Regions from separate parts of the Homo sapiens genome. Here region 2 is linked to region 1. The links come from fine-mapping of genetic effects on gene expression. Tissue or cell type: whole blood. Region 1 holds a variant in brackets; the other region holds the start of a gene. All regions are shown on one strand. Distances are between the middles of the regions.

Region 1 (8,466 bases):
TGGGCGCGCGCGCGGGCGGGAGCTGTCGGGGCGGGGCGGCACCGCCGAGCTCCGAGCTGTGAGGACCGCCCCGGGCCTTGGGCGGGGCGGGGGCCAGGGAAGGGCGTGCGCAGGATTGGGGAGCACGTTTTGCGTCTTGCTGTGCGTGAGGAAGCGGGGATCCAGGTCAAGGCTATGGAAAGGTCAGGGAAGGGTGTCAGTGCGCCCGTCCTGCAGGGAGTCCAGATCCGAGAGGTTAGGGCGGGACCTGGGGCGAGCTGGGCGGTGGGGGAACAGTGGGGTCATCAGGAGGTGGAGGCCCAGCGGGAGTGTGGCGGGGGAGGCGGGGAATCAGGAGGGCCAGGTGTTTGGAGGCGCTGGGGTGGGAAGGGTCCAGGCGAGGTTGCGGGTGGGTGCCAGCCCCGTCTCACATTTGGATGAAGTAGGAAAAGGCAGCTTTTAGGGTACACCCTGACATGTTCTGTCAGGGCCCTTAAAGGGCCCACGGGCCGGAGGAGAGGGGAAAAGGATGAGGGCTCAGCCTGGCAAAGGACAGAAAGTGGTGGGTGTAGGAGGTGGACCTTGGTCTGGTGGCCTAGCCTGCCCTGTGCTCCCTGCAATGCCGGGTGACTTGGGTCACTGGGCGGCCAGGCCAGAGGTGGGCCTCTAGGTGCCCCCCATTCTGGATGCTGAGGGTCCCTGTGAGGGTCTGGCGGCAGAGGCCTGCGCTTATGGGTCAGCAGCTAGGACTGATGGGTTGAATAAGAAGGGCCCAAGTTAGGCCAGTTGTTCTCACAGACCCAGAGGTCCCTAGAGTTTATGATGCCCAGAGTCTAGGAGAGGGAAATGCACACACATGCCCTCGAGGACACCAGCATCCTGACATCCAAGTTACTGTACTGCCCTGGTTAGCAAGAAAGAACATCTGTTCCCTTCTCTATGCAATTGTTACAGTAACTGTTGTTACATTTCTTAAGATACATAGCTATATATGTAGTCACTCTGCAAACACACACACTCTGATAGACACACGATTGCACTCATGGACACAAAAACGGAAAATAAACATGCGGACAGCTACTCCCAGTCCCCAGACCTGACCCTCATGTGACACCTTCACCAGACATGGTACTTTCTGGGACCTGTAATGTGTGTTGTGATGCCCAGCACATTTGTTGGATGGTACAAAGGGAATTATGATACTTAATCAAAAAGCCATACAAGCCAGATAACATTAAGGCTTAACGGTAACAATAGGTGATTCAGTTAGGAAATTAATGTTAGAGATCGGTTTTCCTTGTGGAAATCAGTGGTATTCAAATGCCTGAATTGGCTACCCGGTTTTAGAGCTGCTCTCCATGTATGAGCAGGACATAGGATTCACTCTCTGGAATGCTTCTGTAGGCAGGACTTTGAAATGACCCTGTCCTCAGCCTGGAGGATGCGGTATTCTGATTGTCTGGTGCTGTGTCAACTGGGCCTGCCTCTGGGATAGTGTTGTGGCTGCCCCACGAGAACCCTATATGCCAGGTGAGCTTGAAGCACCTCAGAGACAGAGCACTGAAGCTCCATGACACAGGGCTATTCAGCTATCATTGCCCCTGTTTGCCAGCACCTCTGTCTAAATAACTTGTGTGGGACAGAATTAGGTCCGAGTCTGGTATTCTGTTCATCTAGCCTGGTAGCCAGGTAGTGAGAGAAGAAACCTGTGGCCCTTGTCTAAATATGAGGTGGTCAGTATTTAACAACAAATCAACAATAGGGTATGACCAGACTGACTTGGGTCTGTTTGCAACACCTGAACCTTATGCACATGCTCATAAATGCCCTCTCCAAAATACACACACACACCCCCAAGAAAGGTGAGATACAAATACACACTCCTCCCACACAGAAACATGCATGCTCATTCACTCTGGCAGAAACCCTGATCACACTTACGCTCCTGCACTCAGATCTAGGGAGTAGAAAATGGGCCAAGCCAACTCCAAAGACAGCTCATAGTTTCATTTTCATCTCCTCACCCCCTTCCCAGGGGAGCGCTGAGCAGGGAGTAGCCCACTGCCACCCTTCCAGAAGCCCAGCTACCCAGAAGCTGGAGAACAAGTAGACAAGGGGCTGAGGCTGGCCAGGGGAATGCCCTCCAGGGCATGGGCTGAGAAGGCCTTGGCACCAGGGTGCTCTGCTGTTGGCATTTTCCTGAGTCCGTCAGGAGCATATTTGTGCTCTGTGTGTTGTTTAGAGCTGGCTGCATCTTTAAAATTGTAAGTGCCAACTTGTGTTTTGTGTTTCAAAGTTCCAGAAGCAAAAACAAAAAAAGTTCGGGTACAGCGGCTCACACCTGTAATCCCAGCTCTTAGGGAGATGGAAACTGGAGGATCACTTGAGGCCAGGAGTTCAAGACCAGCCTGGGCAACATAGCAAGACCCAGTCTCTTAAAAGAAAATTAAAAAGAAAGAGTAAATAAAGTTCCAGAAGCTTTGCTCTCCTTATCCAAGCAGCGTTTGTACTTTGGCACTGGAAAGTGCGGGAGTCAGGGGTTTGTGAGAGCACGTGTTGGTTGTCGCATTGGTCAGGATGCACCCATCACTCTGTATCCTCCGGCTAAGGAGTGCTGGAGAGCCGTGATGCCCACTGGCTGTTGTCCCGGGCTTGTCACTCAAAGACGGGACAGATGTCTCCTTCCAGTTCTGGCCCAGACTGTCCTCTGAGCTGGGAGCACAGGGCTCCTCCCTGAGTAGATGACCTGTCAGGTCAGCTGGATCCAGAGGTCCCACAACCTCTCAAGGCAGAGCTGGCAGCTGTCCAGAAGGCAGCAGCCATGATAACAAACGTGGTTGGCCCAGGCCCAGACCTGCCCCCTGGCAACAGAGAACAGCAGGACTGGCTTTGACATTGTTTTAGGGAGCCAGGCACCCTTCCCAGTCAGGGCAGAAGCCCCCTGGAGAGCTGGGCTCCTGACCTCACCGGCCTCCACCTCCTGAAGGCTCTGGCCAAATCCACATGTGACCTCAGGAAGGGAACACCCTCAGGAGTCCAAAGCCCCTGTTCCCCTGCTCGGTTGGCCACAGTCACTCTCCTGCCTCGGGGTTGTGTCTGTAGCAGGCTCTCTTGGGCAGCAGGGGTCAGGAGCACGGAGGGCAGACCCAAGACGGACCAGGCATCTCTGGGGAGGCGACATCCCCTCCCACCGGCAGCCCAGAGACAGGAGCTCCCCAGCAGTGCCCCTCAAGGCCAGATTCGCAAGTAGGTGCCCGTGGAGCAAACAGAGAAAAGCGGGAACACGCGCTCCTGGAAGTTGACGCGGAAGGTGTAGAGGTGGCGCATGTCCTCCACAGCGTAGAAGGACACGGCTCCCACCTCCAGGTCCAGGGCCACCCGCACGCGCGACAGGTGCCCGCAGCTGAGGGGCGACCGCTCGGGGCTGGTCACGGCCCAGTACTGGCCGCCGTTGAGCTGCAGGGCCCAGACGCCCTCCTCGGGAGTGAAGGGCGTCAGGCCCTTTCGGCGCACGCTCTCGCGGGCCACGCCAAAGGCCCAGCCGTCCTTAGAGCCCACCTCCACCTCCCAGTGATGCCGGCCCGAGGAGAAGCCGCAGGACGCCAGGACGCGGGTGTTGGTGTCGAAGCGGCAGGGGTGGTTGGGCAGGTCCTGGGCCCGCTCGCCGAGGCGCACGC[C/T]CTTAAGATCCAGAGAGAGGATGAGGCGCGGGTTGGCCGTGTCGGGATCCAAGGTGAGCTCCACTGCAGACAGAGACAGGGAGAAATGTCCCCACGCAGCCAGGCCCCTGGCACAGTCTTTGCAGGGCCGCGCCCGACCTTGCTTTGCAACCTGCCTGCCTTTCCCTCTAGAATCCCCCCAGCACCCAGCGCCAAGGCCCAACCAACCCCCACGCTCTGCCTCCCAGAGATTTTGCTTCCCCCCGCCCCGACCACTCAACAAGTACTTACTGAAATCAAACAAATGCAATGTGTGGGCCTGGTTTGAACCCCAATTCAACAGATGGGGATATTTGAATGCTAGACATTGGAAAGAATCATTAATCTGTCCAGGTGTGAGGACTGCTTTGTGGTTATGTTTTACAAAGTCTGTTTCTTTAGAGATAACACACTGAGGTATTTATGGCAATGATATGTTGTCTCTGATGCTTTAAAATAATACAGTAGGCCAGGCGCAGTGGCTCACGCCAGTAATTCCAGCACTTTGGGAGGCCAAGGTGTGTGGATCACGAGGTCGGGAAATCAAGAACATCCTGGCTAACATGGTGAAACCCCGTCTCTACTAAAAATAAAAAAATAAAATAAATTAGCCGGGCGTGGTGGCGGGCGCCTGTAGTCCCAGCTACTCGGGAGGCTGAGGCAGGAGAATGGCATGAACCCGGGAGGTGGAGATTGCAGTGAGCTGAGATCACGCCACTGCACTCCAGCCTGGGCGACAGAGCAAGACTCTGTCTCAAAAATAAAAATAATAATAACAATAATACAGTGGAGGCCGGGTGAGATGGTGCACAGCTGCGATACCAGCACTTTGGGAGGCCAAGGCCAATGGGTCACATGAGGTCAGAAGTTTGGGACCAGCTTGGGCAACATGGCGGAAAACTTGTTTTGTATTTTCTCTACTAAAAATACAAAAATTAGCCCGGCATGGTGTCCTGTGCCTGTAATTCCAGCTGTTTGGGAGGCTGAGGCATGAGAATCGCTTGAACCCAGGAGGCAGAGGTTGCAGTGAGCAGAGATCAGGCCACTGTACTCCATGATCTCACTCCAGAGTAAGACCCTGTCTCAGAAAACAAAATAATCCCACAGGAAGTGGATAGCAGTGTCTATGAAAACTGTGGCCACTAATTGATCACTGCGGACGGTGAGAGATGGGTATGTAACATTCTTTACACTCTTCTCTCTACTTTTGAGTATGTTTGAAATTTTTCATAATAAAAAGTTAAGGCCAGGTGTAGAGGCTCATGCTTGTAATCCTAGCACTTTGGGAAGCAGAGGTGGGAAGACAGCTTGAGCCCAGGTGTTGGAGACCAGCCTGGGCAATATAGCGAGACATCCGTCTCCACAAAACATAGAAAATTTAGCCAGGCATGGTAGTGTGCTCCTGTAGTCCCAGCTACTCGAGGACGCCCAGGAGAGAGGATCGCTTGAGCTTGCGGGGTGGAGGCTGCAGTTCCACTGCACTCCACCCTGGGCAACAAAGCGATACCTTGTCTCCAAAAAAAAAAAAAAAAGTTAAAATATGTACACTTACTGTGAGCACTACTACGATTGAGGCCCTGGGGGTACCACAGAGTATCAGAGTAGTCCTGCCTGCCTGCAGCTTCCTTCCCACAGGGAGAGGATTGAGGATAGATTATAAACAGAAGATGAGAGGGACCAGAAGAGCAGGCTGTAACTTCAACCAGAGTGGCCAGGGAAGACCCTCACTGAAAAGGGGCATCGAGCAGACAGATATAAAGAAGGCAAAGAAGCAGGCCACAGGACTGGCTGGGGAAAGCATGCTCCAGGTAGGGGCCTGGGGTGGGGGAGCCTGGCAGTGCAAAGGCCCCGGGATGGGTGTGTGCTTGGTACACTGAAGGAACAGCAGGGAGGATGTGTAGCTGCGTGGAGTAGAAGGGGTGTGCAGTGAGGCTAGAGCCCGTGGGCCCTTGAGACCTCCATGGGGACTCTGACCTTTACCAAGTCAGAGGGGCTGTGGCAGGGCTCTGAGCAGAGGAGGGCCTGGTCTCACTCAGGTGTTTTAGGTGGCACCCAGACACACTCTGACTTAGCTCAGACATCAGCATCAGGAATATGTGCCCTCCCCTCCCCTCCTCTGGGTGTTGGATGCCACACATTCCAGAGCTTTGCAAGAGTAAAAACGATATTCCTTCCAGTCTTTAGCTTCCCCTTGCTTTCCTGGTCCCCTGTATACACCCCATTCCCAGGAGAGGTTTCCATCCATCTTGGAGTGGGGACCGGGTAGAGGCTCACCCAGGTGGCCGAGAAGCCTTTCCCAGTCTGAGTATCTCGAGGTACAGGGCATTCCTGCTCCTAACCAACCTGCAGCATTTGGGCCAACATCTGAGGGTGTCAGAGCTCCCAGGATGGGGAGGGGGTGGTGTGGGGGAGGGGACAGAGGAACAGGGTTGCTGAGGTGGGTGGGCTGAAGGAACCGACCATATGCAAAACCCTGAGATGGTCACGAGCAGGGAGTAGGATCTCTGTGTGGCAGACAGTCCATACTCGCCATCACAGCACCATCCCTACCTTTCTCCTCTTTCTCCAGCTCTCCCCGAAGGTCCTCTGAGGAGGAGAAACAAAGCAAGGCGTGCATGAGCGACACGGGAGATTATATGGCAAGGTCACCAGCTCTTTATATCCCAACTGACTCATTCATTCCCCAGAGACTCCTAAGGCCAAGAGTGAACGTGCAGGCACAGGGCCAAGCATGGGGAGCGGGGGGCAGGGGGCCCATACCCAAGCATTCTAGCTCTACCCAAGTGGCTCTGAGCTGAGCTCCCCTGCACAGCTCTCTTCCTAACCCCAGTCCCCCAGCAGTACCCCTCTACCCCATCTGTGCCCATGAGAAGCGGCATGCCCTGCGGGGGCCTGACTAGATTTGCCACCACAGCCCCTACACCAATCTGGCCATGGCACAGCCAGCTCCTATTTTCACACACAGCTTCTGGAAAGCACACCCAGGGACCCCTGAGCTACCAGGAACCCTCCACCACCACCGCACTATGTGGCCCAGCTTGGCGCCCAGGCCCCTACCTTTGAACTTCTTCAGCATCCCTTTTAAGACAAAGGTCTTGAGAGAAACATTCCAGACTTTATTCTTCATCTCAGAAGAGACTGTGGTTGGCTTGGGGCCAGGCACATTGCTACACCTGCAGGACAAGGGCTCTGAGAAGGGCCTGTGTGCACCATTTTGCTCCCACAGGCTGTGACAATTAGGATGGCGAGGTCCTCTTGGCAGAAAGAGGTAGAAAAGGGAGAGCCAGACCTCATGCAGAAAAACCCATGGCCAGGCAGGTGGGCGTTTGTCTCGGAAGGTCCCCAGGCAAGCAAGTCGGGGGATCAGGAGGTGAGAGGTCAGGGGACAGGGAATAAAGACAAGGCTCAGTGAAAAGGGAAGAAGCAACTTAGAGAGGCCCCAGGAGCTGTGAGGTCACTCACCTGCTCAGCGTGCTTTTGAATTCCTGGAAGGAAAGATAGAGGAAACCAAATCAGCATCAGGTAACCTCCATTCACCTCTGAGAAACAAAGCTTGCCCCTTGCTGTGCCTCCCAGATGTAAGCATAAGCAAGTGTGCCACGCCTCACTGCCTGCGTGGGCCTCAGGGGCAGCAGCTTCCAGTGGCTGCTGGCTGCAGGGTGTCTCACCCACGCAGTGGACCTCTCACCCTTTGCCACAACTCTTCACGTGCTTTCTTTCTATCTTTGCTGCTTTCTTAGTTACAGAATCATCACTGGAGCTATCCCATGGGACCCAGTGCTGCGTGTGTCCTGGAAACCACCTGAGGGAGGTCACAGCCCTTATGCACCTACTGCTCACTCAGCCCCATAATGACTGTTCTTAACCCATCTATGGATTGTGAAGTTTATCTAGTTGTTTATAACTTTTTTTTTAGCGAAATAGAATAGAAAACATCAAAGTGCATACGTGTAGCAAAGGTGAGTATTATTTTCTGAGACTTTTGTCTCAAGCTTGTGATTCTGAAATACGATATATATTATTGTGGCTCATAGTCAAGAAAGTTTTCACATCTCTCTAGACCTCCAACCCCAGGAAAATCAGGGCACTTCTCTCCAGTCCCCTTCAGCTCCAGATCATGTGATTCTCCTAGACCCCCCAGGACTGACACTGTTCTCTAGCTGCTGGTCCTGATGCCTTAGGATAAATGACTCGAGCCCCTGGCTGAGCCAGACTTACCTGGAGAAAGTCAAGGTCAGGCTTTTGAGCTGTCTCCTGGATCTGGCTGCTGAGCTTGGACAGCTGGGTGATCTCAACCCCGAGCTGGGCCAGGTTCTCATTCTGCTTCTGTGCCACCTCCCGGGACAGTTCCTCCAGGCGGCCTAGCAGCCGACCCTCCTGCTCCACCAGGAAAGCCCTCAGTGCCTGGAACTCTGCCCCCACCTTCTCCTGCTCCGCTGCCATCTGTTTCTGTCCCAGGAGGAGAAGTTGGAGAGGGACTTGAACATGGAGACATAACATTTGGCCAGTGGCCTGAGTCATCCCACAGGGCAAGGCTTCGTCCCTGTCACTGCTGGAGGATCGGAGACACACCCACCTACGCACGCAGTGCGTGCTCTATTGTCAGTGTCCCAGCTCTGAACAAGCTGTAGTCTGGACACATGCTCTTTTCTCCCCTGCCACAGATGCACCCACACATGTCTGTGGACCTGTGCTCCATCACCTAAACCAAGGCAGCTTCATACTCCCCCCAGAACTACGCCAAGCTGCAGCTTCCTCACTTGAAAAGCAGAAGGGATAAATTAGTGCCTCC
Region 2 (8,182 bases), 28 kb after region 1:
GAACTACCCAAATCTATCGCCGCTGCAAGCCTTGCATCCCGCTCCTTCACCTGCGTCTCCCTCTGGCTGCCGCCTCACCCGGCGCCGGCCGCCTCCTGTATGGACCAGGCCTGTGTCCTTCCAGCCCCTGTCTCCGACAGTCTTACTCCCCCTCATACTCCCTGTTTGCATCACTCCTGAAGGAACCCCCTGAAATATAAATCAGAGTGAGTCCCTCAGTCTCCCCAGGCCCCATCACCACAGGGTTTGGGAGGAGGCCAAAGATCCCACCAGGTTCATGTGTGTGTCGTGCTTCTCCGACTGTTGAACGCTTGCCGCCTTTGTGCCCGGAGCAGCTTGGGTCACTTGCCTGGAGGGGCATCCCAAACCTGACCTGGCCAGAGCGGCGACGGGTGGAAGGGGTGGAGAGGAGAGAAAGCAGGAATTGTAGCAAAAAGCTCCAGCGGGCGTTCCCTTGGCTTGCTAGAGGACAAAGAAGAGAAGCCTGTCCACTTCATCTCCACTTTAATGAAAAAGCCAGAATCCTTTAAGAATGTTTTCCAGTCCCAGTGAAGGTGGTAAAAAATAACCCTGAAATCACAGTCTGCAAAAGAATCCGAAATAATTTGTGCAAGACGAAATGTCAAACTTAAAACTCTTTGAACACCAGCTTTGAACACCAGTAACTCATGTGCTAGGATTGTACTAGCGACTCTGCCTATTTACAAACGTTGACCAACTTCTGCCCAGACCGCCCTCACAGACTATATAGCCCTCATAAGTCCCCGCTTTGATTTACGTCTGAGACAGAAGACGATGCTATCTTTTGCTCAGCGAGATTAAGCCAGCTTTCTATGATCAACAGACTTCTCTCGTGGTGTGGTGCGTATGCGGAGGAGACTTCGACAGCTTAAAAATACAAAACGGGGCCAGGCGCGGTGGCTCACGCCTGTCATCCCAGCACTTTGGGAGGCTGAGGCAGGAGGATCACGAGGTCAGGAGATCGAGACCGTCCTGCCAACATGGTGAAACCCCGTTTCTACTAAATACAAAAAATTAGCCGGGCGTGGTGGCGCGCCTGTAGTCTCAGCTATTCGGGAGGCTGAGGCAGGGGAATCACTTGAACCCGGGAGGCGGAGGTCGTAGTGAGCCGAGGTGGTGCCACTGCACTTCAGCCTGGAAACAGAGCAAGACTCCATCTTAAAAAAAAAAAAAAAAAAAGAAAGAAAGAAAGAGAAGAAAAAAAGAAAAAAGGCCTATATTTGCAGGACTAATTTCGAGGCCATCCTGGGCTCAAGCGATCCTCCCGCCTTGGCTTACCCAAAGTATTGGGATTACAGGCATAAGCCACCGCGGCGCATGGCCCGTTTTTATCTCTATTTATGTATGGGGGAAACGTGGAGGCTGGTATTTGTGGGGCAACATCTCACAAAAATAGACTCTTAAAGTCAAGAGCATAAAAAAGAATATACGGAAGACAAGTGTCTCATATGACACAAAGCATCTTTCTTGACAGGGAGTCGAAAGCAGGTCGTAGCGAGACAAAGGCGGAAGCCTAACCACTAAATCTCCCAGTAAAGTGGGAGTGAATCAGATAGGTTTTGACGCTCACGAACGCCTGGGGTCGTCCTGCGGTCTCACCCCAGTTTCGATAAACCACATTGTTCCCTCCAGCACAGCAAGTCTCACAGCAAGACGGGGGCAGGCCGTCTGGTAAACATAAAATGCCTAATATGTGCTGCCCGTGGGCGAGTGGCCTACAGCAAAGGGTCATGCATGCACGATAGCCCGCGGTGCTGGCCTGCAGGAATTGGTCCACAGGTACCCGCCTCTCATTCTTTCTTTGAGAGTTAGCGAGGGTGCAAACGTTGTGAGAATTCTGCTCGGGGCCTTCCACACACGGATCGGAGAACACCAGGTTAGTCCAAGTTCTAACACCCACTGTTGGTGAATCTGCTACCCACTAGGTCTTGGTACAGAGAATACCATTTGTGCACTTAGGTAACACAACTTGCCTTAACCTTTCCAAAAAGCGAAATTACGCCCAACGTGGGGCTCGAACCCACGACCCTGAGATTAAGAGTCTCATGCTCTACCGACTGAGCTAGCCGGGCGGCCATGTCTGTATTCTAACTTTGTCTCTGAAGATGGAGGTTACCCTCAGAGGTGTAAGCACGTTTCCACTGTGCAAATACTAAGAAGCGCCTGCGCCTGGCTCTGTTCTAGGCACTAGAGCCGAGGATCTGAAATCTACGGATTCCTGTACATGTGATGGCTGCATAGGCTTCAGAAGGGAAGAGCAAGAGATTAGGTGAGGGGCGAGACCTGAATTTACTTGAGTAGTGCTCTCCTTCAGTTTTGCCCCAGTCCGTGTTCCTCCGAAGCGCAGGGACACACATGTCCTTCCTGCCACGTAAGGCCGGCCTCGGGAGAGAATCTCCCGAACAGACCAAAACGTGTTTCCGCCCGGTTTCGAACCGGGGACCTTTCGCGTGTGAGGCGAACGTGATAACCACTACACTACGGAAACCACCTTGGCTACTTTCCTGCCGGCATCGTCCTGAAGACACACACGGCTGAGACGGCCGGGATAGCTCTAGGCAAGCGCCCTTGTAGGACAGGCCCGGGGACCCCTGCCGCGGCCGGCTGAGCGGTGTCCAGGTTCTGGAGCCGGACTTGTCCACCGCAGCCGAGTCCGCAGGTCCTGTAATGGCCTAGCATAGTTCACCCACGAGGGTTCGTGGTTTTTGGCGCGTTTGATCTGACATACTCAGAGGCCTGACCACCCCCCTAGGAAGCGCGACGTCCATCTGGAGTTTTCCCGCGAGCCGCCTTGAGAGCAGGGTAAGTTCTGCAGGCCCAGCCCTGGCGTCACGCTGTGTCTGGCACTCACTGGAGATTCTGTACATAAATCATGGCCCCGTCATTTTTCTCGCATCAAACAACATTTATTTATTTATGTATCGACATCAAATCTCTATAAAAATAAAATTTAAAGAGCTATTTAAGCATCAAGTATTATTTCTACCGCACAAAGCATCTATTTTTGCAGAGATGCTGTGAGAATGTAGATGTAATGATTCGTCACCACTTCTTCACTGCTGGGCAGTTAGGGAAGTTCATCTAAACCATGAGACAGTGTCCGGTTGGCAGTTTCTACCTCGGATGCGAAACGCCGACTACAGTTGGGGAAGGGTGGGGCGTCTGCTGCCCTAACCCGCGAAGCGCTTTCTCAGGCCCCGCCCCCGGTCCGACCCGGACGACCCTCTGAGTCCTCCACAACGAAGTCGTCTGCCTAGAAGGGCCGGAAGTACTTCAGGGCGCGCCGCGGACCCACCCCCTCGCTTCCGGCATCGGCTGTGGGGAGTACCGGCTGCAGTCGGCTGTGCCGGGAGGGTAGGATGGCGTCTGGCCGATGCGGTGATAGCACCGAAAGCAGACGGCCGCCAGGCGCTCCCCCTACCCCCCGAAGTTTCTCCCCAGCGGCGGGGGATGGGGGTAGGCGGTTCCTCTGTTCTTTCTGCGTTCCCCGCGGCCTCTTACCACAGAGACGCGGGCCTCCACCGTCCTAGCCCTCCCGCCCTGTTCTCTAGTGCGGACTAGAGCGTCTCCTCGCCATTTCCTGTCGCCCTGGGGCCCCGCGGGGAAAAAGGGGGAGTAGCAGGACAGCGGAGGGAAGTCGCGAGCTTAGGTGGTGTGTAGACGCCGGAAGTGTTGGGAAGGAGGCCGGAAGCTAGGGGCGGGGCCAGGAAGTGAGGAGGGGCGGGGGTTTATGAGGAGTCCAAGGGAGCATTGGGGCAGACTTGTACTCAGAGCCACCTGAGGGACTTGGCGGTGGCGCCCAGCACTGTCCCCTCCCCTCGTAGAGACACGGTTGTCGTTTGGGAGTAGGGAACACTGTGTTGGGGTGGGTTGTCGGCAGGACATCTCTCTGGCTGCTCTTGGGGCGAGGTGTGGAGGGGCAGGGCTGGGGGTGGAGCCGGGTCGCCAGGGCGTCGGTAGGGAAGACCCCCGCCCCTCGCCCCCCCACCGAACCTCTACACTGGCTGGCTGGACACTAAGATGGCTGCCGTTGCCATGACACCCAACCCTGTGCAGACCCTTCAGGAGGAGGCGGTGTGCGCCATCTGCCTCGATTACTTCACGGACCCCGTGTCCATCGGCTGCGGGCACAACTTCTGCCGAGTTTGTGTAACCCAGTTGTGGGGTGGGGAGGATGAGGAGGACAGAGATGAGTTAGATCGGGAGGAGGAGGAGGAGGACGGAGAGGAGGAGGAAGTGGAGGCTGTGGGGGCTGGCGCGGGGTGGGACACCCCCATGCGGGATGAAGACTACGAGGGTGACATGGAGGAGGAGGTCGAGGAGGAAGAAGAGGGTGTGTTCTGGACCAGTGGCATGAGCAGGTCCAGCTGGGACAACATGGACTATGTGTGGGAGGAGGAGGACGAGGAGGAAGACCTGGACTACTACTTGGGGGACATGGAGGAGGAGGACCTGAGGGGGGAGGATGAGGAGGACGAGGAGGAAGTGCTGGAGGAGGTTGAGGAAGAGGATCTAGACCCCGTCACCCCACTGCCCCCGCCTCCAGCCCCTCGGAGGTGCTTCACATGCCCTCAGTGCCGAAAGAGCTTTCCTCGGCGGAGCTTCCGCCCCAACCTGCAGCTGGCCAATATGGTCCAGGTGATTCGGCAGATGCACCCAACCCCTGGTCGAGGGAGCCGCGTGACCGATCAGGGCATCTGTCCCAAACACCAAGAAGCCCTGAAGCTCTTCTGCGAGGTAGACGAAGAGGCCATCTGTGTGGTGTGCCGAGAATCCAGGAGCCACAAACAGCACAGCGTGGTGCCATTGGAGGAGGTGGTGCAGGAGTACAAGGTGAGAGAAGTACAGAGAGAAGATGGGAGTTTAGTGGGGGGATGGAGAGGAAGTAAGGGGACCTGGGAAAAGGAAACATCTCTTCACCCACCAAAGAACCTCATGGTATTGGTGAGCCAAGTTTGCTTATCTAAGCACTTACTGCCACCAAGGTGGATTAGAATGAGAAGGATTCTGTACACAGAGCAGATGCAGTGAAGACGACCAGGGAAGGATGGCTTCCTCAAAGCAAATAGAGCAAAGCCGGTGATGCCAGATCAGGTCTCTAGGGCTTTACCAGAAGTCTCGTTTTCTTTCGGGTGAGTCTTAAGTCTGTCCTTGACGGAGACACCTAGAGATGGAAAGAACTGGGGGCTTCAAAGGACAAGAAAAGGCTCAGAAGCAGGAACACAGAGATAACTGCTAGTGTCAGTGTCAGACCCAAATGCTCTGCACTTGCCTCCCAGTGGGTTCCCCACCTACCACGATATGGCTTGGTTCTGTCTTCAAGGACTTTGGTTGGCTCTGTGTCATTCTTATGCACTGACTAGAAAGCAGGAGCTTTTCAGTCAGAAGACCTGGCTCTGCAAGTTGCATTGTCAAATCTTGATTAAGTCTGTGAGTGTCTTTGGACTTTAATTTGTCCAGGATTGATAGTTAATATTCACTGGACATTTATATGTATACCAGGCACTGTACTAGGCACTTTTCATGGACTGTCTCGTTAAAACCCAGACAACACTGAGTTTGATATGTTTTCCATTCCCATTTTATAGATTGGGAAACAAAGTCAGAGAGGCTTTAAGTACCATACAGAGGGCCACAGAGCTTCAGTAATAATTGACTTAGTTATTTACTGTCCCTTCCCCTGGTGTATACTAACAACGCCACCACCATTTGGATGTCTGTTGTTTGACTTTTCTGATGTGACTTTCTTGGAGTCTGATTCTAGTTTGACAAATACCTTGCCCCTACTTCTCATTTTGACTCTTCTTTGGACATAGGTAAAGGAGATTTGTTTGCAAGGCAGCCAGCACAAATAGCACTACTTAGTGAAGGCCTGGATGGGTTTGAAGCAGTGGGACCAGGAGGAGGAGGGGGTAGCCTCTGTGTGGTCTGCACAGAGCTTTTTTTGTTTTATAACTCATGTTTTCAGACCTTCTCCTGATTCCTGCTATAACTTCATTTAGGTATTATTTTCGTTACCCCAATTTTAGAGTAATGTGTCTAGGGTTTCTCAGCTCTGAGTGGTACAGCTAGACATACCTACATTACCTCATCACAAGTAACAATTTCTTTTACAGAGTGGCCTTTTTTTTTTTTAATTTTTTGAGACGGAGTCTCACTCTATTGCCCAGGCTGAAGTGCAGTAGCATGATCTCGGCTCACTGCAGCCTTCACCTCCCGGGTTCAAGTGATTCTCCTGCTTCAGCCTCCTGAGTATCTGGGATTACAGGCACTCGCCACCACAGCTGGCTGATTTTTGTATTTTTAGTAGAGATGGGGTTTCACCGTGTTGGCCAGGCTGTTCTGAAATTCCTGACCTCAGGTGATCCGCCTGTTTTGGCCTCCCAAAGTGCTGGGATTACAGACATGAGCCACTGTGCCTGGCTACACAAAGATTGTTAAACCTGCCTGATTGTTGGAATTACTAGGGGAGGTTTTCAAAAATACAGTGGATCCTACCACTAGAGTTTCTGAATCAGTGAGTAGGAGAATATCTTTAAAAAGCCCAGTCTAGCATGGGGATCACTGCATTGGTAACATTGCCTAGCTGTTAGTCCCTGCATTTTTAGCAGAGATTGTGAGGTCCTGTTGTCCTTTCCATCTCCTCAGTTCCTAGTTAACCATACCCATCATATCATGTGTGGTCACTTTGTGAACAGGAACCCAGGCCAAACTATCCATGGGCATTCCACCCTTTCTCTTTCACCTCCCCCTGTAGGACTGCTCCAAGGAGCTTCTGAAACTGGATTTTAATTTGCATTAGCCAAATTTGTTCAATGCCAGCTGCCTGAAATCCCGTATTAGGTCCTGAAGTAGGTGAGGAATTAAAAAAAGTCATAATCTCTTTTCTTTTCCCCCCTTTTTTTTTTTTTGAGACAGAATTTCACTCTTGTTGCCCAGGCTGGAGTGCAATGGCACAATCTTGGCTCACCGCAACCTCTGCCTCGGATTCAAGCGATTCTCCTGCCTCAGCCTCCCGAGTAGCTGGGATTACAGGCATGTGCCACCACACCTGGCTAATTTTTTGTATTTTTAGTAGAGACGGGATTTCTCCATGTTGGTCAGACTGATCTCGAACGCCTGACCTCAGGTGATCCGCCCAACTTGGCCTCCCAAAGTGCTAGGATTGCAGGCGTGAACCACTGCGCCTGGCCATACTCTCTTTTCTTGATCTGTTTACTGCGCTCTGCAGTTTGGGAGGCCATATACACATATTTAATCTGACATTAAGTGATGAGTAAATGTAAATACATAGTTTTATTGTATAGGACTAATTTGAGTGATTCCCTTTCTGACTTAATAGGCTATTTTACAAGTGGGTCATTTATTTTTTTATTTTTATTTTTTTTGAGATGGAGTCTCGCTCTGTCGCCCAGGCTGGAGTCCAGTGGCGTGTTCTCGGCTCACTGCAAGCTCCGCATCCCAGGTTCACGCCATTCTCCTGCCTCAGCCTCCCAGGTAGCTGGGACTACAGGCGACTGCCACCACGCCTGGCTAATTTTTTTGTATTTTTAGTAGAGACAGGATTTCACCATGTTAGCCAGGATGGTATCGATCTCCTGACCTTCTGATTTGCCCGTCTCGGCCTCCCAAAGTGCTGGGATTACAGGCGTGAGCACCGCGCCCAGCCACAAGTGGGTCATTTATTCTTTTCAGATATGTACATGCAGTAACCAGTAGCTTGGCAAAATGTTTTGTAAAAATTTTTTTTGTTGAATAGGTAATAACACACAAATGATATGTAAATATAGTTCCTGAACAGTTACATGTTTGTTTTGTTTTTTTTGAGACAGGGTCTCACTCTGGCCAGGCTAGAATGCAGTAGCATGATCATAGCTCACTGCAGCCTTGACCTTCTGGGTTCAGGTGATCCTGAGTAGTAGCTGGGACTGGAGGTGTGTGCCATCATGCCCAGCTAATTTTTTTTTTTTTTTTTTCGTGGAGACAGGGTCTTGCTGTGTTGCTCAGGCTGGTCTTGAACCACTGGCCTCAAGCAATCTTCCCATTTTGGCCCCTCAAAGTGCTGGGATTACTGTGTCTGCCCGACAGTTAAATGTTTTGAAAGTTGGCCGGGCATGGTGGCGGGTGCCTGTAGTCCCAGCTACTCGGGAGGCTGAGGCAG

The links.
Region 2: TRIM41 starts here. The variant in region 1 is fine-mapped to the expression of TRIM41 in whole blood (INTERVAL, PIP above 0.99).

Annotation. Positions count from the first base shown.
Region 1 is chr5:181,191,959-181,200,424 of GRCh38, forward strand. It overlaps TRIM7 (tripartite motif containing 7), which reads right to left. Exons shown (of 7, transcript NM_203293.3): 3 at 7,893-8,123; 4 at 7,137-7,159; 5 at 6,732-6,847; 6 at 6,225-6,260; 7 at 1,966-3,719. The coding sequence ends at 3,208. TRIM7-AS2 (TRIM7 antisense RNA 2) reads left to right here. Exons shown (of 2, transcript NR_183285.1): 1 at 1-182; 2 at 2,276-4,923. It overlaps TRIM7-AS1 (TRIM7 antisense RNA 1), which reads left to right and starts at 8,117. Exons shown (of 2, transcript XR_001743050.3): 1 at 8,117-8,466. RefSeq lists a silencer at 1-278. The variant C/T (reference allele first, on the strand shown) is at 3,657.
Region 2 is chr5:181,219,959-181,228,140 of GRCh38, forward strand. It overlaps TRIM41 (tripartite motif containing 41), which reads left to right and starts at 3,323. Exons shown (of 6, transcript NM_033549.5): 1 at 3,323-4,854. The coding sequence starts at 4,042. It overlaps TRK-CTT2-3 (tRNA-Lys (anticodon CTT) 2-3), which reads right to left and starts at 2,093; the gene lies at 2,021-2,093. It overlaps TRV-CAC1-5 (tRNA-Val (anticodon CAC) 1-5), which reads right to left and starts at 2,509; the gene lies at 2,437-2,509. MIR4638 (microRNA 4638) reads right to left here and starts at 2,675; the gene lies at 2,608-2,675. RefSeq lists silencers at 1,902-2,111, 2,362-2,591, 3,862-4,071 and enhancers at 3,322-3,551, 4,219-5,216.